Regions from separate parts of the Homo sapiens genome. Here region 2 is linked to region 1. The links come from fine-mapping of genetic effects on gene expression. Tissue or cell type: whole blood. Region 1 holds a variant in brackets; the other region holds the start of a gene. All regions are shown on one strand. Distances are between the middles of the regions. Region 1 overlaps PHTF2 (putative homeodomain transcription factor 2). Region 2 holds the start of RSBN1L (round spermatid basic protein 1 like).

The links. PIP is the estimated chance that this variant, and not a neighbour inherited with it, causes the effect.
Region 2: RSBN1L starts here. The variant in region 1 is fine-mapped to the expression of RSBN1L in whole blood (TOPMed, PIP 0.98).

The regions. Positions count from the first base shown.
Region 1 is chr7:77,928,069-77,937,107 of GRCh38, reverse strand. PHTF2 (putative homeodomain transcription factor 2) reads right to left here. Exons shown (of 19, transcript NM_001395272.1): 11 at 7,781-7,999. Among named protein-coding and RNA genes, the nearest start is that of DDX3ILA1, 58 kb to the left of the region's middle. The variant A/G (reference allele first, on the strand shown) is at 3,998.
Region 2 is chr7:77,692,457-77,701,495 of GRCh38, reverse strand. It overlaps RSBN1L (round spermatid basic protein 1 like), which reads right to left and starts at 5,037. Exons shown (of 8, transcript NM_198467.3): 1 at 4,441-5,037. The coding sequence starts at 5,026. APTR (Alu-mediated CDKN1A/p21 transcriptional regulator) reads left to right here and starts at 5,231. Exons shown (of 2, transcript NR_134254.1): 1 at 5,231-5,600. RefSeq lists silencers at 3,817-3,916, 4,207-4,526, 4,997-5,216 and enhancers at 4,737-4,966, 4,151-5,046, 5,047-5,942, 8,929-9,039.

The DNA of each region.
Region 1 (9,039 bases):
AGGACCCATTTAACTTTTTTTTTTTTTCCAGATAAAGCAAATATTACAAAACTGAAGCACTCAGCCTCCTGAGTAGCTCGGACTACAGGCACCTGCCACCATGCCTGGCTAATTTTTTTATTTTTAGTAGAGACGGGGTTTCACCATGTTGGCCAGGCTGGTCTCTAACTCCTGACCTCAGGTGATCCACCGGCCTCTACCTCCCAAAGTGCTGGGATTACAGGTGTGAACCACTGCGCCCAGCCCCAAAACAGAACAGTTGAGTTAATGATGGCAACAAAATTAATGAAACACTAAACCTTTATATAATCAGACTTCAAGAGGAGAAGTAACACTAAAAGATTAAACCCAGATAGAGATCAGTTTGCTTGTTTATATTGCAGTATTTCTAGTGTATTTTTAAGGACTCATATACTTCCCACATTTTGTTTTTTGAGACGGAGTCTTGCTCTGTTACTCAGGCTGGAGTGCAATGGTGCGATCTCAGCTCACTGCAACCTCCGCCTCCCAGGTTCAAGTGATTCTCCTGCCTCAGCCTCCCAAGTAGCTGGGACTATAGGCGCCCACCACCACGCCCAGCTAATCTTTAAATTTTTGTAGAGACGGGGTTTCACCATGTTGACCAGGTTGGTCTCGAACTCCTGAACTTGTGATCTGCCCACCTAAGCCTCCCAAAGTGCTGGGATTACAGGCGTGAGCCACGGTGTCTGGCCACTTCCCACATTTTCTAAAAACAATAGTTTTGGCATTCGTAGCAACCTCAAATTTTATAAAATATTTCATTAAATATAACTTCTAACAATGAACAGAAGAATCTACTCTAGGTACATTTATTCTTTAGAGGACAAAAATGTGATTAAAATATGGTAAAAAAAATGTTTCTTGTAAACTTTTAACACTTTCCTCTAGGGGGAGTAAAGTTGCATTGATTAATTTCAACTAAAGTTGAATAATAATAATTCAATAATGTAAAAAAAAAGAGGTGGGAAATTTTTATCTTTTCTAGAGATGAAGGATTTTAATATACTTTAACTTTCATGGTATACATTTCACTACTTGAGGTCCTGAAGAGTGCTAAGATACTAGTTATTAACTACCAACTTAATTTCTCAAATGTTATTTCCTCATTTATCTCCAAACAAAATATTCTGTTTTGGGAAAGAAATAATCTGTACCAAAATATGTATCAAACTTTCACTAGAAATTTTACAATTGTTAAGCGTAAGGAAACCAAAAAGCCAGAAACAGGAAGTGCAAGAAGCTAAAAGGAAAGAAGTTTAAGCTTGAGAGCCAACAGATTTCAACCACTGATTTACAGACATTTTTAAACTCTCAGTCTGGAATAGTGAATTAAGGTCTTCCTAATTACATGAAGAAAGGAATATCAATACCAAGAAAGCCCATCTAGAGACAGAAATAGGAAATCAGGACATTCTCATTGTCCTCCCAAAAGCACTCCTTTTACATCTAGCTACCTTGCCAATTACTCTATCCAGCATCTGATATTACATTATTTCTAGAATGCCAAAAGGCAAAAGAGAAGACAGCAACTAGAAACTGGTGAATTTTAAAAGAGTTAATTACGCCGGGCGCGGTGGCTCACGCCTGTAATCCCAGCACTTTGGGAGGCTGAGGTGGGCGGATCACGAGGTCAGGAGATAGTAGCCATCCTGGCTAACACGGTGAAACCCCGTCTCTACTAAAAATACAAAAAGAAATCAGCCAGGCATGGTGGCTGGTGCCTGTAGTCCCAGGTACTGGGGAGGCTGAGGCAAGAGAATGGCGTGAACCCGGGAGGCAGAGCTTGAAGTGAGCCGAGATCGCGCCACTGCACTCCAGCCTGGGCGACAGAGTGGGACTCCGTCTGAAAAAAAAAAAAAAAAAAAAAAAAAAGGGTAAATTACATGTTCAATGTTGTGTGTAGAAACTTGAAAAAATAAATAAAAAAGACTGCTATATTCCTCTGTGTGTGTGTGTGGGGGGGGGGAATGTACACTGAAAAACAGTCTTGTTGAATCATGTCTGCAGTGTGGAGAACAGCATCACATGAAATTTTTTTTAAAAGGTTCAGGGAAAACATCAGAGCAAATAATTTCATTTTATAATTTTATCACATAGGTTACTCTAAATACATTTTCTTTTTTCTTTTTTTTTTTGAGACTGTGTTGGGCTCCACTGCCCAGGCTGGAGTGTGGTTCTTGGCTAACTGAAACCTTCGCCTCCCGGGTTCAAGCAATGCTCATGCCTCAGCCTCCTGAGCAGCTGGGATTACAGGTGCCTGCCACCGTGCCCACCACCATGCCCGACTAATTTTTGTATTTTTAATAGAGATGGAGTTTCACCATGTTGCCAGGCTGGTCTCGAACTCCTGACCTCAAGTAATCCACCCGCCTTGGCCTCCCAAGCTGGGATTAGAGGCGTGAGCCACCATGCCCGGCCGCTATATATGTTTTCAAACTAAAATTTAGAACTTAAAATTTTTTTTTACCTTTGAAGACAGCATCACAGATCCAAAAATTTAGAACTTCTAAAATGATTATACTTTATCCTCACTTAAAATCTCAACTGCTTTGCTCCTTATTCATTCAAAACTACCTGAAAACCTTATTGCTTAAATGGTGGCATGTTTTATTTCAAATAAATTCACCATGCCAACCACATACTCGTGTTTCCAACTGTGGGAATGCAGCCATTTAAAGCTTTACACTTACTAAAAACTGAATTTCAGCTGAATATAGCTTTATATTTTAGTATATATTCAGCTATAGAGGAGGGCTATAGGAGAAAAATTTTCTTCTGTGGAAATGTTTCAATTACTATTTACAAACAAAATAAAACAATGAAATAAAGATACACATTTGGGAATATTCTGATTAGAACATACTAATTCAAATGCTCAGTGTTTTTTCATGAGAAGGGATTTTTCCATCTGTATAGCAGACAGAAAAAGGTCTTCCAAACCTAACAGACTGGTTAAACAAGAAAAAAAACTAGTAGCTTTTTAGTAAAAGGGAGCTAATTTCCATTACTTAGCTACTAGTAAAACTAAAAGCATGAGCTTATTTTTTGAAACCTGAGAATTAAAAATCTGTTTAAGATCAAGTCTTTAATCTAAAAGCAAAACCAATATAAGCCTAGGATACCATAATTAGATATACAGAGTAGAGCATTAACAAATTTTATCTTACCAAAAAGGTAGCCGACTGGTGTGACAGACTTAGGAGCAATTTACTCTGCACAGACATCATAAAACAATTTTTTAAATCATTTAAGAAAGGCCTAATTGGCATGTTTTGAAAAAATTTAATTTTGTTTCAGGCATTCAATATTTATTAAATACCTACTGTGTACCTCACGCTGTGTGATACAACACTGAGCAAAAAAAAAAAAAAAAAACACATGGTCCCTGCTTTTATGCTGCTTATAGTTATCTCTGGGAAAATAGCTCACAGGCATTTCCCTCAATCTTAACTCCAGTTGTTAGTCTCAGTGACTTAGATGAATATGCAGATGACTCATTCAACACCCTATGCTTTCATGGATTGTTCACTTTTTCATTTCTTCAATCCCAAGGACGCTACTCCCACAGCCACACCCTAGACCTTGTCACCATACGGAACTGCTCTACTTCTGAAAGGAATCTACTACAACTTCCCATCTTACCTGGTCTCTCAAAGCTTCAATTCTGAAACACTTGTTCCCTTGAACACACCTATCCTTAAATTTATCAGTCCCTTCCTGATTTCATTTCCTTCTCAATCTAACAATTTAATGACTAGACTGCCACCAGATCCACCATTTCAATCATCCCCTCTCCTGTCCCTTGAAGAGCAACTATTTATTTATTTATTTTATTATTATTATTTTTTTGAGACGGAGTCTCGCTCTGTTGCCCAGGCTGGAGTGCAGTGGTGCCATCTCGGCTCACTGCAAGCTCTACCTCCTGGGTTCACGCCATTCTCCTGCCTCAGCCTCCTGAGTAACTGGGATTACAGGC[A/G]CCCGCCACCACGCCCGGCTAATTTTTTGTATTTTTAGTAGAGATGGGGTTTCACCGTGTTAGCCAGGATGATCTCGATCTCCTAACCTTGTGATCCACCCGCCTCGGCCTCCCAAAGTGCTGGGATTACAGGCGTGGCAACTATTTATTGAACACTTACTCTGTGTGACTTTGGGCACATTACTCAACTCTGAGCAATGTAAAATGAAAATAAACTACATTACCACAGGTTGTAAAGGTTAAATACATGAGATAATGCAACTAGATTACTTTGCACAGTGTGTGGCATAAGTAAATGCTTATTAAATGTCAGATATAGTAACAACTACATTCCAGAAAACATCACATAGCTGTGTAGAATAGGCAACTACAAATTCATGGTTTCAGATTCCAGCTGGACCCTCAACAATGTGGCAAGGCAGTATGATTGTTTTGATGTGTTCATTGGCTTGAACACACACACACACACACACACACACACACACACACTCTCTCTCTCTCTCTCTCTTTCTCTCTCTCTCTCTTCCTCTTTCTCTCTCTCCCTCTCTCTGTCCCCTTTCTCCATTCTCCACAAATGGTAACTTAAAGCCTTCACCACCATCCAAAAGCCTCCTCTTGTATCATCTCGCTTATTGCCAGTAGATCCCTTGGACTCTTGCACTTCACGGAAAAAAGATCATCAGGCAATAACTCTCTTACCATCTTGCTTGCTGCATGCACTCATCCTTATCCTCCTATCTCAGCAGAGGATGTTTTCCTCTTCCTGTCAAATGCTAAGCTTCCTGATTATGATTCCCCTCCAGAATCCTAAGAAATCATTCCACCAGTCAACATTTTCTTCCGTATCTCTTTGATTCTTCCCTACCTGTTTTCTCCTGTATATATCAATGTTTTCAAATATCTCATATATTAGGGAGTCAACACCAAAACACTCCAGCTCAATTTCCCTAATTACCACTTTGTTTTTTCTAAACATTCATAGCCATCCTTTTTATTTTTTATTTTATTTTTGAGACAGAGTCCGCTCTGTCGCTCAGGCTGGAGTGCAATAGCGCCATCTCAGCTCACTGCTAAGCCCTGCCTCCCAGGTTCAAGTGATTCTTATGCCTCAGCTTCCAGAGTAGCTGGGATTACAGGTGCCTGTCACCACGCCTGGCTAATTTTTGTATTTTCAGTAGAGACAGGGTTATTTAAAGTAAAGGCAGCTTGCCTTTTTCATTCAAAATTATATTCAAAAACTTATTCATGTTGATACATGCAGCCGAGTTCATTCAATTTCACTGCTGTATACTGTTTTATCATACAACATTATTTATTAATTCCACTATTATTGGCTATTATATTTTCAACTTTCACTATCATGCACAATGCAATGATAGTGCCTATCTTCTAAAGTTTCATTCTAAATTGGAATGAAAGGGTCCTAGAATATATAGAACTTCAACTTTACTATATAATGACAAACTGCTCTTCAAAGTAGCTGTACAAACAAACATCAGTATTAAAGAGTTCTCTCTTCACATTCTTGCCAACATTGAAATTTATCAGGTTTTAAATTTTGACAATTTGATCAATATTAAGTAGTATCTAATTGTTCTAATTTACATTTCCCTAACTAATAGCAAGGCTGACCATCTTCACTTATATTTTATTAGCCATCAGGGGACCTGTTCACATCCTTTTATTTTTCTATTGAGTCATTTGTCTTTTACTTATTCATCTGTAGGAGTTCTTTATGTCCTGTATGTAGTAACACTGTGATAGTTAATGTATTGGAAATATCTTCTCCCAGCCTGTGGCTCATCTTTTAACACGCCCAAAGTTTTAAATCTTAAGATATTCAAATTTATCTCTCCATTTTTGTTTGTGCTTTTTATATCTTGTTTTTAAAAATTCTTCTCTAACCTGAAGTAATAAAGATTTTTCTCCTGTATTTTCTTCTAAATGCTTTAAAGTTTCGCTTTTCACCTTTAGAAACTATTTGGAATAAATTTTCAAGTGTATAATCATTTGACTCACAACCATATAGTCCGTTCTTTTTCTACTGACTTGTAATGCCACTTATTGTCATGTATTAGTGATCCATTATAAACAAATGTCTATTTCTGAGTTTTCTATTCTGTTCCATCGGTATATATGTTTATATGTCTATACTATACTATCTTGAGTATTAAATTGAAAGTAAATTTTTATATCCAGTAGGGAAAGATCCCTGTTGTTCTTCAAAATTGTTTTTGCTATTCTTGATATTTTGCTCTTTAATATGGACTTTAAATCAGCCTAACTCCAACCAAAACCAGACAGAGGTAAAGAGACCAGAGCTCCCTTATTTCCACCGTGTAAGGATACAAGGATAAGATAGCTGTTGTAAACCAGGAAGAGAACCTTTACCAAGAACCAATCATGCTGGCACCCTGATCTTGGACTTCCAGGCCTCAGAACTGTGAGAAATAAATGTTTGTTGTTTAAGCCACCCAGCCTCTGGGATTGTTATAGCAGAAGGTTCTTTGATAGCTATGCATCACCCTTTTATCAGATTGAAAGTTCTCTTTTTTTTCTCGAGTTTTCTGACTTTACTTGGTTTGACAGGATTAGATAAGGAGTTGGATAAGAGAGAGAAGGTGAAGAAGAGGGGAATTTTAAATGACCACCAAGTTTCTGGACTAGTGAGTAGATGAATGGAGATGTCATTCACCAAAATTTTGAATGGAATAAGAAAAACAGATTTATGAGGGAGGACTGGTTAAATTTGAGGTATTGGTGGGACATTCAAATAAAGATATCCTATAAAATCGTGCTGTCCAATATAGTACCCTCCTCACATGTGGCTATTCAGCATTTGAAATGTGGCTAGTCCGACTGGGCAGGGTGGCTTATGCCTGTAATCCCAGCACTTTGGGAGGCTGAGGTGGGAGAATCACTTGAGGTCAGGAGTTCGAGACCAGCCTGGCCAACATGGTGAAAGCCTGTCTCTACTAATAACATAAAAATTAGCCGGGTGTGGTGGCGGGCGCCTGTAATCCCTACTACTCAGAAGGCTGAGGCAGGAGAATCGCTGGAACCTGGGAGGCGAAGGTTGCAGTGAGTCAAGATCGTGCCATTGTACTCCAGCCTGGGTGACAAGAGGGACAGACTCCATCTCAAAAAAAAAAAAAAAAAAAAATGTGGCTAGTCCAAAATGAGATGTGCTCTAAGTGTTTACACCAGATTTTGAAGATTTAGTATTAAAAATGTAAAATATTTCATTAATTTTTTCATATTAGTTATATGTTAAAGTGATATTATGAATATAATGGTCTAAATAAAACATATTTGAATTTCCCCTTTAAAAAATATTTAATGAGGCTACCAGAAAATTAAAAATTATACATCTGACTCTCATAATATTTCCATTGGATAGCATTACTATGGGCACTTGGAGCTACAAATTTGATATTCATGAGATGTAGATTTGTGAATATAATCTTATAGGTGGAGTTTAGACCAAGGTGTACATGCATCTGGCCACAAAGTATGTTCAGTAAGAAAGTACTATTGCACCTAACACACGATTTGACTTACGAAACTCCAGTTACCAATAACTTTTCAGGAACATACATAACCACAATATAAGTACTGAGATTCTATGTTTTGATGAAGCCAGACCACAGCTCACATAAAAAGAAAAAAAATTATAGAAATATAAGCTTGAATGTAAGCTTTTTCTTCACCTCTGTAACATTTGAACATAAATTCAAAGGAGCTTGACTCATAGCTCCACATAAGCCAAAACCATAAACCAACCTGATGAAAAGGGTCATCTCTATATTCTTTTTTCACACATGGATTAATCTGATGATTTTCCACATCTGTCTCACTGGTACAAGATGAATGGCATTCTGCACAATGTAACAAGTCTTCCCATAACACATCTTCTGTTTCAGATTCTGGCCTTGCACTCTCAGAATCCTGTCTGGAACTTGAACAGCGAGAGCTGCAACTAGTACCCGATTTAGGGGCGTCCTGAAATCAAGATATTCTTTGACATTAATACAATTTATGTACTCTTTCCAACTCAAAGGATACTATCAGAACCCATATATTGATACTTTTTGCTAAAACAACAAATACACCCTCAAAAGATAGTGAGACAGCAAAACATTACAAAATATATTAGCTTTTATTCAGTAACAAAATACCTTCACATCAAAATTTATTTGATTTCATATTTCAGCTCAGATATTACTTTGCATACAAAGGTTGTATCTATTTTCTCTTAAATTTTATATGAAGTTCACAACTCAGGTAGGCAGAGAGAGTAGTCTAAGTAGTCTAAGTTCATACGGTCTGCACGGTGAACATTAACTGACTTTAATTGATGTTATTAATGGCAATACCATTGGCCTCCCATATCCATGCATTCCACATCTGCAGATAGAAAATACAATATTCCTGAGATGCAGAACCCACAGTTTTGGAGAAATGGAGGGCGAGGGCTGACTTATGTGTCATCAGGTTCCACAGGGCTGACTGTGAGATTTGAGAATCCTTGGATTTTGGTATTTATAGAAGGGCCGGATATCTACCAATCTCACGTGGATACCCAGGAATGACTGTATTTTCTTATTCTAGTCTTTTTTTTTTTAAGCAAGAGTGGATTTATCTACTGTTTTTGTTTCACAAATGGAAGTGAAATCAACATAAAATTGATATTTAAACCAAGAAGGTAACTGCCAACTCATGTTCTTGAGATAATCTGTGGTATAAAAGTAAAAAATTAAAACAAGTTAAGTAATTTCTAATCAGTTTACTTTATCCTGGGAGTTTGCAATGTACAAAATAAAGATGAGTAAAATTTTGATTTAAATTAATTAAAAAACTTTTACTGAATAAATCATGGTCATAGTCATCCTTATGGCCAGGTATCTTCAATTTTTTTTTTTTTGGCTGTCCTCTGTGACTAGATTTGTCATGTACCTTTAAAATGCATTATATTTATCCTTTTGTCTTTCCTTTGCTATCACCGACTTCAGACTTTATCATTTATACCTTCATTGCTATAA
Region 2 (9,039 bases), 240 kb after region 1:
GAACCAGGCAATAAGGGAACACCACCTTCAAACTTTTGAGGGAAAATTATTTCCAATGCAGAAATCTCTTAACTGCCAGTCAAGTAAAAGGATAAAAATGAAATCCAAAATGAAAATCCAAAATGAAGGAAGAAACCAAAAGGAAGGCATGAGATCCGGAAAAATAAAATTCAACAAAAGTTAAAGAAATTCCCAGAATGTCAACTAAGGAAAGTCCCAAGGTGACAGCTATGCAGCAGGCCTAAAGAGGAAACAACCCAGGCTAAAGCAGTAAGGACAGCTACAGAAGGGATGTCGTTTTTTTTTGTTGTTGTTGTTGTTGTTGTTTTTTTTTTTTTTTTTTTGAGCCAGAGTCTTGCTCTGTCGCCCAGGCTGGAGTACAGTGACGCCATCTCAGCTTACTGTAACCTCCGCCTCCTGGGTTCAAGCGATGCCTCAGCCTCCCAGGTAGCTGAGACTATAGGTGCGTGCCGCCACACCCGGCTAATTTTTTGTATTTTTAGTAGAGATGGGGTTTCACCGTGTTGCCCAGGCTAGTGTTGAACTCCTGAGCTCAGGCGATTCGCCAGCTTCAGCCTCCCGAAGTGCTGGGATTACAGGCGTGAGCCACCGCGCCCGGCCCCAGAAGGGATGTCTACAGGAACAAATGGAATGGGTAAGTTTATCTGACAGATTTGCCCATGTGGAAAATTGTACTGAGAAGCATTTTATGGAGCTACTGGAGGGTACAGAAAGACTCTGCCAGAGAAAACTAAGCAAATGAAAAAAATGAGACATGAAAAACAAAAGGTTACACAAGAAAATAAAATCATAGTAAATTATTCCCTCAGCAGAGACAAATATTTAGTCATATGATAAAAACTCTGAATATGAATTTAACCTAAAATTGTACAGTAACAATACTGGAGGAGAGTGTAGTTAGAAAAATCTTCAGACACCCATCCCTTTGACATCACTCACATTTATATACCTCAAATTATTTGATTCTAAGAAAAGCTGCTATTTTCATTAGAGTTAAATCCTGCAACTACACTTTCAAGGCAAAAATTCAGTGAAATGCTCTGGTTTTGTCTTGAAATACTTCACAGGGTCATTTTAAGGAAAAAAGTAAGTTAACAAATACAAAGCAAAAGTACTAACAAAAGTTAGAAGATCTATACAAATTTTGCTGGTTACTGGAGTCAGTGAAGGCACACTGACAGCTAATGAAATATTTGTTGTGGTTTGCCATAAAATAATTCTAAATTTTGGATACCCTTGGTATATGTCCACTTTTACTTTCCACACTTACCAATTCTACAATTTATTCAGTCTTACAGGAATATTGATTAACTCTCCAGTAAATTACCTCCGTAAGCACTAAAATCAGGTTATTTTCTGGTTTTAAAAATCTAAAATGTTGGCCAGGCACGGTGGCTCACGCCTGTAATCTCAGCACTTTGGGAGGCCAAGGCAGGCAGATCACAAGGTCAGGAGTTTGAGACCAGCCTGGCCAACATGGTGAAACCCCCTCTCTACTAAAAATACAAAAATTAGCCAGGCGTGTTGGCGAGTGCCTATAATTCCAGCCACTCGGGAGGCTGAGGCAGGAGAATTGCTTGAACCCGGGAGGCGGAGGTTGCAGCGAGCCGAGATCGCGCCACTGCACTCCAACCTGGCCAACAAGAGCGAGACTCTGTTTCCAAAAAAAAAAAAAAAATCTAAACTGTTTTGCACTTTTCCTTCTTATAAGAAATTTAACTTTTACTTGGTGAGTCAAGCTATCACGCAAGTCAGCTACAGTACTATGATTAGATGGCCTTAGAGATTGTGAGGCATCAGGCCCTGGTACTAAATGGGGCCATATTAGTATACTTTCATAATTCTCTTGTTCAGCATTCTTAACTTTCATATCTGTCAATGATCCTTCCTCTATCAGCATTCACCCATCTTTCAATTAGTTATAGGGTTAAAAAATTAATAACTATGCTTCAGACTCAAATAACATTTACTAAATACCCTGCTAGGCCCTTTCTTATACATGCTTTCATTTAACCCAAATACGTTCTGTTAGAATGGTCACCAATGTAAAAATAAAGCAGTTCTGACTTAGGACTTTTTAAAAGCCCTACTATTAATAAATACAGGAGCTTAATTGTTTAATCAAATTGGGGTGCAGGCTAGGTCTTTCGAGTGTGTGTGGTTCAGTTTTGTTTTGTTGAGGGAGAATCTCTTCCTTGTTTAGGTGTCTTTATAGCTAATGTCTGGTTCTGACTCAGACTGTTCAATCAGCCAGCTGTGGATAATTGAGGGGTTACTGAACCATGCACAGCCAACTTAGGGCAACACTAAAAAGAGGTATATACCTAAACAAACACTTGGTCACCCATTCACTAAGATTTTTACAAAAAGCACAGAGAAATGATCATTGTATTGCAAATCAGGACTTTCATATTTGCAATTATATCTATAATAAAGGCATATATGTATTCTTGCTATACCACTTGTTAATACCGCTATTTAAGAATCTTCTTAATTCGTTAAAACAGAACATCAATTCAGTTAAATCCAAACTTTAGAAAGATATAAGTATTCCCCAAGTTACGAGGGAAAAATTTTCACCATTAAATTTACCACCAAGACACTGGAAAGGAATCTTTTTCTCTGATAGTTTTTCCTCAACAAGATAGCATTTGTGTCTGAAAAAATGAAAATCTTACAGTAGTGTTAATATCTTGTCACTACTCCAAAAAACCCACATAGGTCATGGGAAAAGATCATTCCCACATCTTAATGTAAAACCTATCACTGTTTATATTCAGGATTAATAATATTAGTGTTAACCCTCAAAAGAAGAAGGATTCTAAATGTAATTGAAAAGACTATAAAAATTCCTCTTTAACAGCCATTTCACTTTAAGGACCATTTGTGTACTCCACATTTTAAGTTAGAATTGTTAAAGAATGCTTACTTATTTCTTCTCAAATATTCCATTACTCCAACTATGTAATACTCATATTCACTTCCTCTTTCAGAGAACTTACAGCAAATGTGCAGTTTACACACCACAAACACTAGTGATGATACCAAGCTGCATATGGACAAACTTCCAGGCACTTATCTCCTAAATTTTACATATAAATTGTTAAAACAAAATAGCTTTAAAATACTAATCACCTGGAATTCCTGACTAAAAGTACCAAAATCCCATCCTCAAAACCACTTTCCTAGAAACAACACTCCCAGAAGCTGAAAGATATTTACATTGCACCAGAGTCCCTGATGGCTATGCTTAGATGTTAAAGCTTTGCTACAGGCAAAAAATATCAAGGAAGAAGTGACACTATTGCTACATGCACATGCAGCATGTTTTAAGTTGTGAAAACAAACCATTATAATCCAAACAGAATTTTTCATGATCTGAGCTACTGTTAGATCAGCAATGCTGAAACTGCTTGACATTTCTTTTTCTAAAAAACAAAAAGAGTTATTTGACAACACTGTGTAGCAGTGCACATTTATAATAAAGATTATGCGCTTTAAGCTTGCGATCACATAAAGATTTGATTTTCAACTAGTCCGTATGTTGCACTATTGTCAGATCATTGTGTATCCGTAGCTGAAGTGGTGGAAACACCTGAAAAATTATACGACTAGCCTACATTTAAAAACAAAACTGACCCTGTCTGACAAGAACCCTTAAGAATTCGCCTTTTTCTAATGCTCAAACATTCTGCAGCCGCTTGATCTGGCGAAAAATCGTCAAAGCTCCTGGTTTTATCATTTGCTGCAGGGAAAAAAAGAATATGGCTGAAAATTCTTTCAGAAGGGTGGTATTTCAAACAGGACCACCCAAAACACTTAAGAATACGCAGCGGAGAGTAGGGTGCAGGGAGGGTACCTTACGAAACAGCGCACTTCGGGCCCTGCACGCTACCTCATTTCCCTAATAGGGATGAAAAGCTCAGGCCTCTGGTAGCTTCCAGCTGACGCCAGTGCTCTCTCCACACCCCTTTTTTGACAGGATTATCCGGGGTTGAACGCTGTGTCACAAATACGAATTCCCGCGACCACGTCTAAGTGGTCTAACAATCAATCAAGCATCTTTTACAAAACCAAACCCTTCCCCCATCCCGTTCCCTCCATCTCTCTCCCTAGCCAAACAAACCTAGGAGAGTCCTCAAGATGGATTTTCACAAATCCTGCAGCGCACTAACTGGGAGGAAGAAACGATACAGAAAATAAGAGTGTCGGCCATCCCCCTCTCTGCAACCGAAATTACAGGCTCCATTTCCTGTCCCCTTGGGAACTGCAAAATCCTCTGCTGAAAACCGGACGCCTCCCAGCCCCTCCAGGCCGGCGCACGCGGCCGCCGCGCTCCCCCTTCCCGGGCCCCGTGGGCGCCAGGGGGCGGCGGGGACCCACGGCGCCCTCCCCTCCCCCTCCCCGCACGGCACCCACCTCGGGGCAGCGGCTTCACCTCCCCGTTCTCCTCCCGGGAGGCCCCGCCGGCCTCTCGGGCCCCACCGAGACCGTGCCTCCTCCTCTCCTTCTCCCGCTTCTCCTTAGGTCTGCGCGACTTGGCGTTAGCCGAGGCAGCGGCGGCGGCGGCGGGCAGGAGGAGATGGTGAGGCTGAGCGTGCAGCAGCGTAGGAGGGACCAGCAGTTTGCGCGGCACCGGCTGAGACAAGGAAGCGGAGGCTGAGGAGGGAACGGCCGTGCCAGCGGAGAAAGAGAAACTGCTCCGAGAAGAGGACGGGGAGGGAGCAGCAGACAGAGGGGCAAAGCTCCAAGACGCGGGGCTGCCATAGCTCTGAGGCGAAGGTGCTGCCGGCGGCTGCAGCTGCCTGCTGTTCCCGCCGCTGCCCCCTTCTCCGTTCACTCTCCGCGGTGCCTTCTTCTCCTCAGTCCGGACCTTCTTGGCGGACAGAGAACCCGGAGGGTCCCGGGAGGAGAGTTGCAGCTTGCCAAACGGTTCTTTCTCCGAGACGGTGGCGGTGGGGGCCGCGGCAGCGACACAGTGCACGGGGCTCGGCGGTTCCGCCATTTTGCGCTCCTGTTGTATTTACTCTCCTCCGCTAGCCGGCGCGGGGCAGGGGGCGGGCCCTCCGCGAGGGGTAGGGAAGGGGCGGAGCGGCCAGGCCACCAGCCGGCATTGCTCCATTGGGCAAGCCACGCTGAGGGATCCACCTAAGAGCCAATCAAAGGCACAAACATCAGACGAAGGGGCGGGATCGCCACAGGGACCCTCTTCGGAGGTCAGAGCTCGGCGGGGTGCGGCTAGTGGCGGAGCGCGCTGCGAGGGGAGGGCTTTCCACTGTCGCTGGCGTGAACTCGCGTGCCCGGTGGGTATCAGGGAAGAACCCCCGCCCCGGACCCCCAGATCTGCCATGGCCGAGGTAGCGATCGTCTCTGCGGCCACGAAGACTGTTTTAACTTGTACCACTTTCCCTTCCATTTTTCCTGGGGTGCCTCTCACCCTGCATCTGCGCGTTCAGCAAGCTGGATTTCGGGAATGCTCAGTTCAGAAGAGAAAAAATTGCCGGGAATCAAGTCCTTCTTTTTGTTAGTCGGTAGTCGATTGATGGGAAGTGTTCAAAATCATTCGATGTGGTGACAAGGTACGTTATTATTGCTAGATCATGTGCTGTAATCCATTGAAGGAGATAACTTCCAGCAAATCTAGAACTTTAGTATTACTTACAAGCTTGAAGGTGAGAGTCTCCCTTTGGAGACTTTTGAACTGTTGTGACTAGACCCTTAAGATTTTTATTTTATTTATTTATTTATTTATTGGGACGGAGTTTTGCTCTGTTGTCGAGGCTGGAGTGCCGTGGCGCGATCTCGGCTCACCGCAACCTCCGCCTCCCAGATTCAAGCGATTCTCCTGCCTCAGCCTCCCCAGTAACAGGGACTACAGGCGTCCGGCACCATGCTTGGCTAATTTTTGTGTTTATTAGAGACGGGGTTTCACCATGTTGGCCAGGCTGGACTCGAACTCCTGATCTCAGGTGAGCGGCCCACCTCCGCTTCCCAAAGTGCTGGGATTACAGGCGTGAGCCACCATGTGCGGCCTTAAGATTTGAATTTTATAATAATTATTATAGCCGGGCGCGGTGGCTCACACCTGTAATCCCAGCACTTTGGGAGACCGGGGCGGGCGGATCACGAGGTCAGAAGTTCGAGACCAGCCTGACCAACATGGTGAAACCCCGTCTCTACTAAAAATGCAAAAATTAGCTGGGCATGGAAGCGCGCACCTGTAATCCCAGCTACTGGGGAGGCTGGGGCAGGAGAATCGCTTGAACCCAGGAGGCGGAGGTTGCAGTGAGCCGAGACTGCGCCACTGCACTCCAGCTTGGGCGACAGGGCAAGACTCCGTCTCAAAAAATAATAATAATAATAATAATATTATTATTATTATAACGTAGACTTGCCAGGAAAAATTCGTTGGCGATTATTTATGGATGTTTGAAAAGCAAGAATTGTTTTTTTAGGTTTCTGTATTTTAGCGTTTAGTAAGCACACTGCGTGTTCGATGTTTTGTAAGCATGTGCTTTGATTTTTGCTTCGAAAATAAGCAATTTGGGGAGATGGGTTTTAGCTTAAAAGATAAGGAATGTGGCCGGGCGCGGTGGCTCATACCTGTAATCCCAGCACTTTGGGAGGCCAAGGCGGGCAGATCACAATGTCAGGAGTTCGAGACCAGCCTGGCCAACATAGTGAAACCCTGCCTCTACTAAAAATACATAATTAGCTGGGCGTAGTGGCATGCGCCTGTAGTCCCAGCTACTCTGGAGGCTGAGGCAGAAGAATCCCTTGAATCTGTAAGGCAGAGGTTGCAGTAAGCTGAGTTCGTGCCATTGCACTCCACCCGGGGCGACAGTGCCTATTTACTCATTTTTTTAAGAATATTTTTAAGAATTTTTTTTTTTTCGGCCAAGAGTGGTGGGTGGCTCACGCATGTAATCCCAAGACTTTAGGAGGCGGTGATGGGTGGATCACCTGAGGTCAGGAGTTTGAAACCAGCCTGACTGACATGGTGCAACCCCGTCTCTACTAAAAATACAAAAAAAATTAGCCAGGCGTGGTGGTGCGTGCTTGTAGTCCCAGCTCCTCGGGAGGCTAAGACAAAAGACTCGCTTGACCCCTGGAGGTGGAGGTTGCAGTGAGCTGAGATCGTGCCACTGCACTCCAGCCTGGGTGACAGAGTAAGACTCCATCTCAAAAAAAAAAAAAAGAATGTTTTGGAGTCAAATTTAATATTGGTTTATGGACTTATTTTTATGTGCCTCAAATTTTTTAAAGTAATAACAGTATTTAATATGTAACATGAAAACTTTCTAATTGGAATTGACTGGCAGCAGATGTCTTCAAGAAAATTAGCATTGGTGGGAGAGTGGACTGAGTGGATTAGGCTGGAAATCATCTGCTAACGCACTAGTTTCGTGACCTTAGTCAGGCTGCTTCACTTGTTAGGACCTCCGTTTTCTTACCTGTTGAGTTAGCATATTTGATTACGTGATCACTAAGGTCCCTTCCACACTCAACTTATGCCATATTCAAGAAGCTTTTCAAAATCACACCGAAACCATTACAATTGAATTCATTTTTTAATTGTTGGCCCTCCTGATCTAGAAAAGTGTCTCTAACATACATTAATGTAGTGCCTGGAAACTTGCACCACTCATTCTCTAATCTCTAGCACACAGGTCTGGAAAATCGGACTTCTTAAGAGCCCAGTTAAACTACACCCTTGCCTGCATGAATTTGTTACTCCTTGCATTACATTATACTTTCATGCACTGTTATTAGGCCTGGCACTTAATTTGTAGAGCCTAAGCAAGAGTGTGGCTATAGAGGTCCACACACCATCTGTCTAAATATTTAAAAAATAAATCAAGATAACAAACTATTATATAAAATACATTCTATTCTACTACCTTGACAGATCCACTTTCATATGATCTGGAAGTCCATGTTTGAATTTAGAGTTCTTAGAGTCCCCACACTGACCCCATTCTCCTCCCATCCCCAAGTTCACCTGCCACACGGAAAGGCCATACATGCACCCAACATGTCCAGGTGTATGTCCACATCCCCCTACTCCGCAAATGGTGATGTACAATCGGCAGCTCACTCTGCCCTCAGATCTAGCCAGTCTAAAAGAGGAGGGCAGGCTCCAGGCAGACATGGCCCCTGACCTCATGGGCTCCTTGTTCTTTACAGCAAGAGGAGGGCCAAGTAAACAGAGGCCCCTTACCCAGATCTAAAGACAGGACTTGTCTGTTATTAAAACATGCGCAACTATCTCTTTTCTGTGCTGTGTAATTAGCCATTCCCTTTCAACTAGATTATTCTTGTCAACACTTAACTGGCAGAGGTTTTCTACCACTATCACCAATTTCTTTTAGCATAATCTCTTTATAATCTCATATAGGTTTTCCATTCTACAGCTAGAAAGCTCTTTTCAAAACCTTGGCCGGGTACAGTGGCTCATGCCTGTAATCCCAGCACTTTGGGAGGCCGAGGCAGGCAGATCACCTGAGGTCAGGAGTTTGAGACCAGCCTAGCCAACATGGTGAAACTTTGTCTCTACTAAAAATACAAAAATTAGCTGGGCATGGTGGCACGTCCTTGTAGTCCAGCTACTCGGGAGGCTGTGGTAGAGAATCGCTTGAATCTGGGAGACGGAGGTTGCAGCGAGCCAAGATCACGCCACTGCACTCCAGCCTGGGCGACAGAATGAGACTCTGTCTCAAAAAAAAAAAAAAAACGAAAACGAAAAAACCTGGATCTGACCATCTCTCTTGCCTTGCTTCAGACCTGAAGTCAATGGCTTTCATTGCTCTCGGGACAAAAAACAAAATCCTTAATGTGTCCTGTAAGACCTTTCATGAACTATCCCCTTCTTCTATTTCAAACTAACAGGTCTTTAATCTCCAGAACCCACCATGTTGTCTTTCAACATAGAAACATTGCATATGTGATTCTCTCTACTTGACGTGCTTTTTCCTTTGGCTGTTGCCTATGTGATGATTTGGATAATGAACATAAGGG